Homo sapiens: one gene and its partner. The protein of the gene in region 1 purifies or fractionates together with the protein of each later gene. This does not show direct contact. Each region holds a gene or a part of one and is shown on either strand. Other genes may lie near its edges.

The links. Proteins that work in one complex are often made in the same cells at the same time.
Region 2: the proteins of CDK11A (region 1) and ZNF267 purify together in Homo sapiens (affinity purification with mass spectrometry; one large-scale study listed by BioGRID and IntAct). This does not show direct contact.

What each region holds. Positions count from the first base shown.
Region 1 is NC_000001.11:1,709,898-1,715,157, reverse strand, and holds part of CDK11A (cyclin-dependent kinase 11A), read left to right. Parts: intron 1-2,730; coding exon of another isoform or gene 2,731-2,757; coding exon 2,758-2,894; intron 2,895-5,260. UniProt on the Homo sapiens protein: Appears to play multiple roles in cell cycle progression, cytokinesis and apoptosis. The p110 isoforms have been suggested to be involved in pre-mRNA splicing, potentially by phosphorylating the splicing protein SFRS7.
Region 2 is NC_000016.10:31,910,776-31,915,560, forward strand, and holds part of ZNF267 (zinc finger protein 267), read left to right. Parts: intron 1-3,700; coding exon 3,701-4,785. UniProt on the Homo sapiens protein: May be involved in transcriptional regulation.

The DNA.
Region 1 (5,260 bases):
GGAAAACTGCTGAGCTGTGGGTAAAAGCAGTAAGAATCTGACCTTCTGGCCTGAGAGCTGCTCCCTTTACTGCTTCCACTCTGCACTTGGAAGCACGGAGGTTCCACTGGGACAGGGCAGCTGCAGGACCTGCAGTTTCCTTGCTGCCTTGGAAGGGGTTACTCCGTTTAGAGCAGTGGGCAGTGGCCTTGCCCACCAGCATCCTCAGTGGAGGGAGGAAAAGGCCAAGAGGTCTGCTAGAATGAAGTACAGTGTGGTTGGGAGCAGCTGTGATCCCGCCAAAGACGTGCAGCAGAGACTGGAGAGAGCTCGAGCCGCCACCCACTTGTGACCAGCCCTGAGGATGCAGCTGCGTGAAAGGACCTAGCAGAAAATAGAAGCCGCCACAGATGCGAATGACGCCTGAACGTTCAGTGTGCTCCCTGTCCACACACAGCCGTGGGCCAAGGAAGCCTTACTGTGCTCGAGGTATTTGAGCCCAGCCTTTTTCCAGTGCTGGCTAATTGCTAAGCTGTGCAGCCATGGTGGTGACCCCTAGGAAGCCAAGGTTGAAAATTAAAATAGGCATGTGGGAAGGAACGGGGTGGCCATGAGCTATGAGGGAGATGGATTTCACGGACAACCAGACAGGCCTTGGTGGTAACAACGAAAGGGAAAACTTAGAATCCAGAATTGCTACAAATGTATTATCTAAAATACAAAGAAGTATGACAGTGTGACCCGTACTGAGGAAGAACATCATCAGTAGAAACTGTCTTGAGTGTCCAGATGTTGAATTTAGTAAAGGCTTGGAAACAACTTGTGGATGGAGCAGTAGAAATTATCCATTCTGAAGAACAGAGAGAAAAAAACAAGAAAAATGCACAGAGCCTCAGAAACCCGTGGTACAACATCTGCTGTACCAAAGCACGTCGAATGGGGGTTCCAGGAGAGAGGAAAGATATTTGTTACAATAATGGTTAAAAACTTTCCAAATTTTAATTAAAAAATATGCACATTCAAGAGCACAGGAAGTTTGAACTAGAATAAATGCAAAGTCACATCATAGTCAAACTGGCAAAGGCCAAAGAGAAAATGTTGAAAGGGCTCAGAGAAGAATGACCCATCCCATGAAAGGGGAGCTTCAATACCGCCAGCCACTGACTTCTTAGAAACAATGGAGGCCAGAAGGCAGTGGAGTGGCATACTCAAGCTGCTTAGAGAGAAGAACCATCAGCCAGGAATCAAAACTGTTCTACACAAGTGAAAGGGAACGAACGACATTCCCTGAGAAGCAGAGACTGGTGGGATTCATTGTTGGCGAAACCTGCCTTAAAGGAAATACTAAAGGAAGACCTTCAAGTTGAATAGAAATGACACCAGACGGTAACTTGAATCCTCAGGAAGGAAGGACAGGCACTGCAGATAGCAAGTGTAGGTTGACGTCAATATCCTGTAAATATCTCTCCTCACATCTTAGGTTTTACTGGAACTACGATTGTGTAAAATAATTACACTGTTGTCGTGGTATGTGGCATAAATGGACTGCACAAAGAAGACAGGGAATGAAGCTGTGTTACAACAGTTTTATATTGTACTGGACTTGAGCTAGTATCATGAGGCATATGGTGATCCCTAGAGCAACCACTAAGAAAGTTGTTTTCTTAGTGTTCTAAAAAGTACAAATAAATTAAAATGGTATGCTAAACGTATGTAATTTAAAATCAAAAAGGGAAGAATAAAAAAGACACAACAAAGCAAGGAAAGTAAATCCAACTGTACGTGTAATTATATGACATGTGAAAGGTCTCTGTGCCCCAAACAGACAGGGCAGATTATCAGATAGAAAAACAAGATCTAACTGTATGCTGTCTGCTAGAGAACAGGAAAAGACGCAGCGTACAAACATCAGCTGTCATAGGAGAGCTTGAATGGCTGTACTCATACCAGACAAAACAGATGTTAAGAAATATTAGAAACCAGCCTGGCCAACATGGTGAAACCCTGTCTCTAGTAAAAATACAAAAATCACCTGGGTGTGGTGGTGCACACCTGTAATCCCAGCTACTCGGGAGGCTCAGGTATGAGAATCACTTGAACTCGTGAGATGGAGGTTGCAGTGAGCCGAGATTGCGCCACTGCACTCCAGCCTGGGTGACAAACCAAGACCCTGTCTCAAAAAAAAAAAAAAAGCTAGAAACAAGAAGGAGCAAGGACTTCACAGCCAGAAACAGGCCAATACAGCAGGAAGATACAGCAATGATACATGTGAATGCATCTAACCACAGAGCCCAAAATCCATGAAGCAAACACCGATCGAATGGAAAGAAATGGATCATTTATTAATTAGAATTGGAAATGGCAGCTGGGCACGGTGGCTCGGGCCTGTAAACCCAGCACTTTGAAAAGCGGAGGCAGGCGGATCACGAGGTCAGGAGATTGAGACCATCCTGGCTAACATGGTGAAACCCTCGTCTCTACTAAAAATACAAAAATTAGCTGGGAGTACAGGGCGCACGCCTGTAATCCCAGCTACTCGGGAGGCTGAGGCAGGAGAATCGCTCGAACCCGGGAGGCGGAGGTTGCAGTGAGCCGAGATCGCGCCACCGCACTCCAGCCTGGGGGACAGATGAAGACTCCGTCTCAAAGAAAATAAAATAAAAAAATGAAAAAAAAACTTCACGGATTGAATTACGTAGAAAGCCAGCTTACAAATGTGGACAAAAACGCGATAAGCAAGCTTCTGTTTAGGGGGAATGATGGCGTGTGCCTCTTCAGGGACCGCTTGGAGCAGTTAGAAAGGAAGCGGGAGCGGGAGCGCAAGATGCGGGAGCAGCAGAAGGAGCAGCGGGAGCAGAAGGAGCGCGAGCGGCGGGCGGAGGAGCGGCGCAAGGAGCGGGAGGCCCGCAGGGAAGGTAGGCGGCGCGGTGGGCAGCTGTGCTCGGCGGGACGCGTGTCTGCTGCCCCCTGGTGCTGGGCACTTGCTGTCACAGGCGGGCGCTTGGTTCCGGTGCTTGCTTTTCGCCCCTGCCTTTTTTTTTTTTTTTGGAGGCAGAGTTTTGCTCTTGTCCCCCAGGCTGGAGTGCGGTGGCGCGATCTCGGCTCACTGCACCCTCTGCCCCCCGGGTTCAAGTGATCCTCCTGCCTCAGCCTCCGGAGTAGCAGGGATTACAGGCACCCGCCACCATGTTCAGCTATTTTTTTATATTTTTAGTAGAGACAGGGTTTCACCGTGTTAGCCAGAATAGTCTCTTGATCTCTTGGCCTCGTGATCCACCCACCTCGGCCTCCCACAGTGCTGCGATTACAGGCGTGAGCCACCGCGGCCGGCCAGTACGAGCTTTTATAGTCACCCACGTCCTCACCTTAATGGAGATCTTTATTTCTTCACCCAGCTTCCGGTTTCTGTCTCGCGTCCTTTCCTTACACCCCACACAACTCCCTGGAGCTTATTCTTCAAGGCAGGTCTAGGTCTAGTAGTAATGAACTCCCTCTGCTTTTGTTTATCTGAGAATATCCTCATTTCTCCCTCATCTTTGAAGGAAAGTTTGCTGGATACGTGGTTCTTGGTTGACAATTTTGTTGTTGTTGTTTTGAGACAGAGTCTTCTTCTGTTGCCCAGGCTGGAGTGCAGTGGAGCGATCATAGCTCACTGCAACCTCGAACTCCTGGGCACAAGTGATCTTCCCACCTCAGCCTCCCGCGTAGCTGGGACCTACAGGCGTAGCGTGTGCCACCACACCTGGCTCATTTTTCAGTAGAAACAAGGTGTCCCTGTATTGCCCAGGCTGGTCTTGAATTCCTGGGCTCAAGGAACCCTCATGCCTAGCTGACAGTTTTTCCTTTTCACTTGGACTATTTCAGCCCATTGTCTTCTGGCCTCCAAAGTTTCTGATGAGAAATCTGATGATCTTATAGAGGATCCCTTGGATGCTTTAATCTGATGACCTAATTGAGGATCCCTTGGATGCTTTGAAGATTCTCTTTGCCTTAGGCTTTCAACTGTTTAATAATGGGTTTTCCTGTGGGCCTCTTGACTTCATTCTACCTGGAGTTCACTGAGCCTCTCTAATGTTTATATTTACGGTTTTCATCCAATGTGGGGGTTTTGAGGAATTCTTCAGATACCCTCTCTGCTCCTCTCCTCCCTCCTGGGCTCCCACAGATCTGTTGGGGTCCCCGAGGCCGCTCAGCACTGCTCCCTTTTCTTCAGTCTCTTCTGCTTTCTTTTCCTCAGACGATGTGATTTTATTGTCTTCAGGCTCACCGATTATTTCTTCTGCCTGCTCACATCTGCCTGTGAGTTTCTGTTGTGAATATTTACTTTTTAGTGTCTATTGTGAGCATGTACTTATTAGCTCTGGAATTTCTCTCTGGTTTCTTGTTGGATCTTCTGTCTCTGTTGATATTTCCGTCGTGTTCACGCGTCATTTTCTTGACTTTCTCCACATCTTCCTTTCGTTCTCTGAGGAACTGAAGGTTTAAGACAGTTCCCTAAAATCTTTGTCTGGGACATCTACCGTCAGGTGATTTTCAGGAACCGTGTCTGTTGGCTTCTTTTTTTCCCCTCTGAATGGGACATACTGTCCTGTTTCTTTGTTTCTCTTGTGTTTTTCTTAGTCAAAAAAATGGACATTTGATTCTCATGATGTGATTCTTCCTGGTCCCCACTCAAGGGTGTGCACTTGTTGTTTTGGTTGTGCTGGGCTGTGTCTGTGGGGTCGGCCTGTTGTGGAAACTCAGGGTCTTCACGGGTCTTTTCTGAGCCTGAGCCTTTTCCTGGTCACGTGCAGCCACTTTTTAACGTTCCCGTCAATACAGATGTTTTTAATGTTCTTGTCCTGAAGTGTCTGCCTCCTAAAGGGGGAATAGAGAGAAATGAAGGGGGCAACGGGGGACGTGGTGCTCATGCCCTGGAAGTACCTTCAGCTTGGGGGTGGCCGTGGCTGCTGCCTCTTCATGCCTCTGGGGTGGGACACGCAGTCATCACACTGACCTCGGGTGTGTGTGTCCGTCTGCCCACCTGGGTCCGGCGAGCTGCATGCAGGCTGCTGCCTGCCAGCGGGGAGTGAGGTGGGAGCCACTAATGTGCGAAGCGGTGACGTTGATTAATGAATCACAGTTTACTCTCCAAGATTCCCCCTGAAGTTGCAAACCTTCAGTAGACTCCAGAGCACCTCAGTAGTTGCACAGGCCTGATCCTGTGATGCAAGTGTTGTCTCGGTGGGGAGACTGATTCCCAGTGCTTCCTACTCCATCTTTCCAGAATCTTCTCCCGCCC
Region 2 (4,785 bases), on another chromosome or scaffold:
TTCTTTAAGATCCAACATTAGGTTATATGATTTTTTTCTTTTTTGATGTAAGCACATATATCTATACATTTCTCAGTACTGCTTTTGCTGTATCCCATAGGTTTTGGTATGTGTTTTTTCATTATTTGTTTGAAGAAATTTTTCAATTTCGTTCTTAATTTCTTTACTGATCCAATTTTCATTGAGGAGCGTATTGTTTAATTTACATTTGTTTGTATAGTTTCCAAAATTCTTGTTACTGATTTCTAGTTATATTCCATTGTGGGCAGAGATGTTTGATATTATTTCACTTTTCTGAATGTTTTAAGACTTGTTTTGTAACCTAAAATGTTGTGTATCTGAAAATTATCTATGTGCTGAGAAGAATGTGTGTTCTGTAGCCATTAGATAAAATGTTCTGCAAATATTTATTAGGTATATTTGGTTTATAGCACAGATTAAGTCTGATGTTTCTTTCATGATTTTCTATCTGTAAGATCTGTACAATGCTGAAAGTGGTGTGTTGAAGTCTCAATTATTATTGTATTGGGGCCTCTCTCTTTAGCTCTAATACTCTATGTCTCAGTGCTTTAGTGTAGGGTGCATGGATATTTAAAATTGTTATATTCTCTGACTGAATTGATCCCTTTATCATAAAATGACATTTGTTCTGTCTTCACAGTTTTTATCTTGAAATATATTTTATCTGATGTAAGTATAGCTACTTTGGTTCTTTTTTTTTGTTTTCATTGGCATGGAACATTTTTCCATTCTTTTATTTTTCAGTCTATGTGTATCTTTATAGATGAAGTGTATTTCTTGTGGGCAGCAGATAATTGGGTCTTCCTTTTTCTTTTTTTCACCCATTCTATGTCATCTAATTGGAGTGTTTAGTGCATTTCCATTCAGCATTATTATTGATAAGTATGTGTTCACTCCTGCCATTTTGTTATTTGTTTTTGCATCTTCTCTTTCTTTTGTCCTTCCTTTCTGTCTTCATTTTAGTGAACATGATTTTTCTTGGTGGTATGATTTAATTTCTTGCTTTTTGGTTTCTGTGTCTGTTGTATGTTTTTTTATTTGAGGTTACCATGAAACTTACAAATACTATCTTATAACCTATTGTTTTAACTGCTGACAACTTCACACTGATTGCCTAAGTGAACAAATAAGCAATAAGAAAACTAGTAAAAACTCTACCTTTAACTTTGCTTCCCCATTTTTCAACTTTTTGTTGGTTCTCTTTATGTCTTATTGTACTGTCTTTGTCTTGAAACATTGTTGTAGTTGTATTGAGTCATCATTGAGTATTTCTACTTGAGTATTTTACACACCACAGTTACCATATTATAATACTCAGTTTTTCTCTGTGCTATTACCAATGAGTTCTGTACCTTCAGATGACTTCTTATTGTTCATTAACATTCTTTTCTTACAGATGGAAGAGAATGCCCCTTAGTATTACTTGTAGGACAGGTCTGGTTTTAATGAAATCTCTCAGTGTTTGTCTGGGAAGGTCATTTTTTTCTCCTTCATGGCTATGGAATATTTTCACGGGATAGACTATTCTAGTGTAAAAGCTTTGCTACTTCAGCACTTTAAATATGTCATGCTATTCTCTCCTGGCCTGTAAGATTTCCACTGAAAATCTGCTGCCAGACGTACTGGAGTTTCATTGTATGCTGTTTCTTTTTTCTTGCTGCTTTTAGGATCCTTTATTCTTAATTTTTGGGAGTTTGATTATTAAATGTCTTGAGGTAGTCGTCTTTGGGTTCAATCTGCTTTGTGTTCTGTAACCTGGTTGTACTTGGATATTGATATCTTTATAGATTTGGGAAGTTCTCTGATCGTATTCTTGAAACTTTCTACCCCTGTCTCTTTCTCTCTTTAAGGCTAACAACTCTTAGATTTGCCCTTTTCAGGGTGTTTTCTAAATCTTGTAGGCATACTTCATTCTTTTTTGTCTTCTCTACATATTTTCAAATTGCCTATGTTCAAGCTCAATAATTTTTTCTTTTGCCTGATCAGTTTTGCTATTAAGAGACTGATGCATTCTTCAGTATGCCAATTGCTTTTTTAACTTCAATTTCTGCTTGATTCCTTTTAATTATTTCAACCTCTTTGTTTGATTTATCTGATAGAATCTGAATTCCTTCTCTATTTTATCTTGAATTTGTTTCCTCAACACAACTATGTTGAATCATCTGTCTGAAAAGTTACTTATTTTGTTTCTCCAGGATTGGCCTCTTATGCCTTATTCAGTTTGTTAGGTGAGGCCATATTTTACTGGATGGTCTTAATGTGTAGATGTTCATCTGTGTCTTGGCATTGAAGAGTTAGGCATTTATTGTAGCCTTCGCAGTCTGGGCTTTGTGTCCACCCTTGTTGGGAAGGCTTTCCAGAATTTGAAGGTACTTGGATCTCAAACTCAATAACGTTGTTCTTGCAGACTCATAGAGGTACCATGTGGTTGGTCTTGGTTAAAATCGATGAATTATCTGGATTACCAAGCAGAGACTCTTGTTCTCTTCCCTTAGTTTCTTCCAGACGAATGGAATTTCTTTCTCTATGCTGAGCTACCTGGAGCTGGGGTGGGATGACATAAGCTTCCCTGTTGCCCCCACCACTGGGACTGTGCTAATTTAGACTTGAAGTGAGCACAGCACTGGGTGTCACCCAAGGCCCAGTGTAATTACTGCCTGGCTACCACCTAAGTTTACTCAAGACCTTAGGCCTCTACAATCAGCAGGTGGTAACCAGCCAGGTTTGTGTCTCCTCAGGGCAGTGAGTTCCCTTTGGCCCCAGGTAGGTTCAGAGATATTGTGTGGGAGCCAGGTATTGAAGTCAGAAGCCTTATTTATCTCGTGTTCTATTCTACTGCAGCTAAGCTGGCATTCAAATTACAAGACAACATCCTTACCACTCCTCCCTCCCCTTTCTGCAGGCAGAGGAGCCTCACAATGTGTCTGCCACCACCACCAGCCCACAGGGGTTTCCACTGGGCTATCACTGATGTTCACTCAACACCCAAGCACTCTTCAGTCAGCTTATGATGACTGCTTCCACAACTGGGACTTACTCTTTGGTGCAGGGCAGGTCCAGAAATGCTGACTCAGGGACCCTAAGAGTCTGCTTGGTGCTCTACCCCACTGTGGCCAAGCTGGTACCTCAGGTGCAAGACAGAATCCCATTTACTTTTTCCTCTGCTTTGCTCAAACAGAAGGTGTCTTTCACTATACCCACCACAGTGGGAAATGTTCTGGGTCACACCTGAAGCCAGCACATCTCGGAGTCCAATGTTCATGATGTGTTATTGGGGTACCACTGTAGGTTATTCAGAGACCAGCAGCTCCTAAGTCAGAAGGTGATGAATCCTGCCAGGTCTCTGCTGTGATAGGGCAGCACTGGGTTCATTGTAGTCCCCTAGTCACTGTGCTCTCCGTCTCCCAAATGAACAGATTTCTCCCCGCCATGCAGATGCTGCTGAGGGGCAAGGGCAAGGTGGCACAAGCACTCCCTTTCCTTCACTGTTGGTGTCTTAGTAGTTCACGTGCCACTTTATTGTAGTAAAGTTTGTATATCAATTGAGAAAACACGGCCTCAGGTTTTTCACTCAACTGTTGTTGTATTCTCAACTTAGCATAATTTTGTATATTAGATTTGTAAAATATATGTACCTGAATATAGTAATTGGAATTCTTAAAATTTTTATATCTTTCAGATGTGTTTTCGCATTATAACAAGGACCTGTTGACAGAGCACTGCACAGAAGCTTCATTCCAAAAAGTGATATCGAGGAGACATGGGAGCTGTGATCTTGAGAATTTACATTTAAGAAAAAGGTGGAAAAGGGAGGAGTGTGAAGGGCACAATGGATGTTATGATGAAAAGACTTTTAAATATGATCAATTTGATGAATCCTCTGTTGAAAGTTTGTTTCACCAGCAAATACTTTCTTCTTGTGCCAAAAGCTATAACTTTGATCAATATAGGAAGGTCTTTACTCATTCATCATTGCTTAATCAACAAGAGGAAATAGATATTTGGGGAAAACATCACATATATGATAAAACTTCAGTGTTATTTAGGCAGGTCTCTACTCTAAATAGTTACCGAAATGTTTTTATTGGAGAGAAAAATTATCATTGCAATAATTCTGAAAAAACCTTGAACCAAAGCTCAAGCCCTAAAAATCATCAGGAAAATTATTTTCTAGAAAAACAATACAAATGTAAAGAATTTGAGGAAGTCTTTCTTCAGAGTATGCATGGGCAAGAGAAACAAGAACAGTCTTACAAATGTAATAAATGTGTAGAAGTTTGTACCCAGTCATTAAAACATATTCAACATCAGACCATCCATATCAGAGAAAACTCATATAGCTATAACAAATATGATAAAGATCTTAGTCAGTCATCAAATCTTAGAAAGCAGATAATCCATAATGAAGAGAAACCATACAAATGTGAAAAATGTGGGGATAGCTTAAACCATAGTTTGCACCTTACTCAACATCAGATCATTCCTACCGAAGAGAAACCCTGTAAATGGAAAGAATGTGGCAAGGTCTTTAACCTTAACTGTAGTTTATACCTTACTAAACAGCAGCAAATTGATACTGGAGAAAACCTTTACAAATGTAAAGCATGTAGCAAATCTTTTACTCGTTCCTCCAATCTTATTGTGCATCAGAGAATTCACACTGGAGAGAAACCATACAAATGTAAAGAATGTGGCAAAGCCTTTCGCTGTAGTTCATACCTTACTAAACATAAGCGAATTCATACTGGAGAGAAACCTTATAAA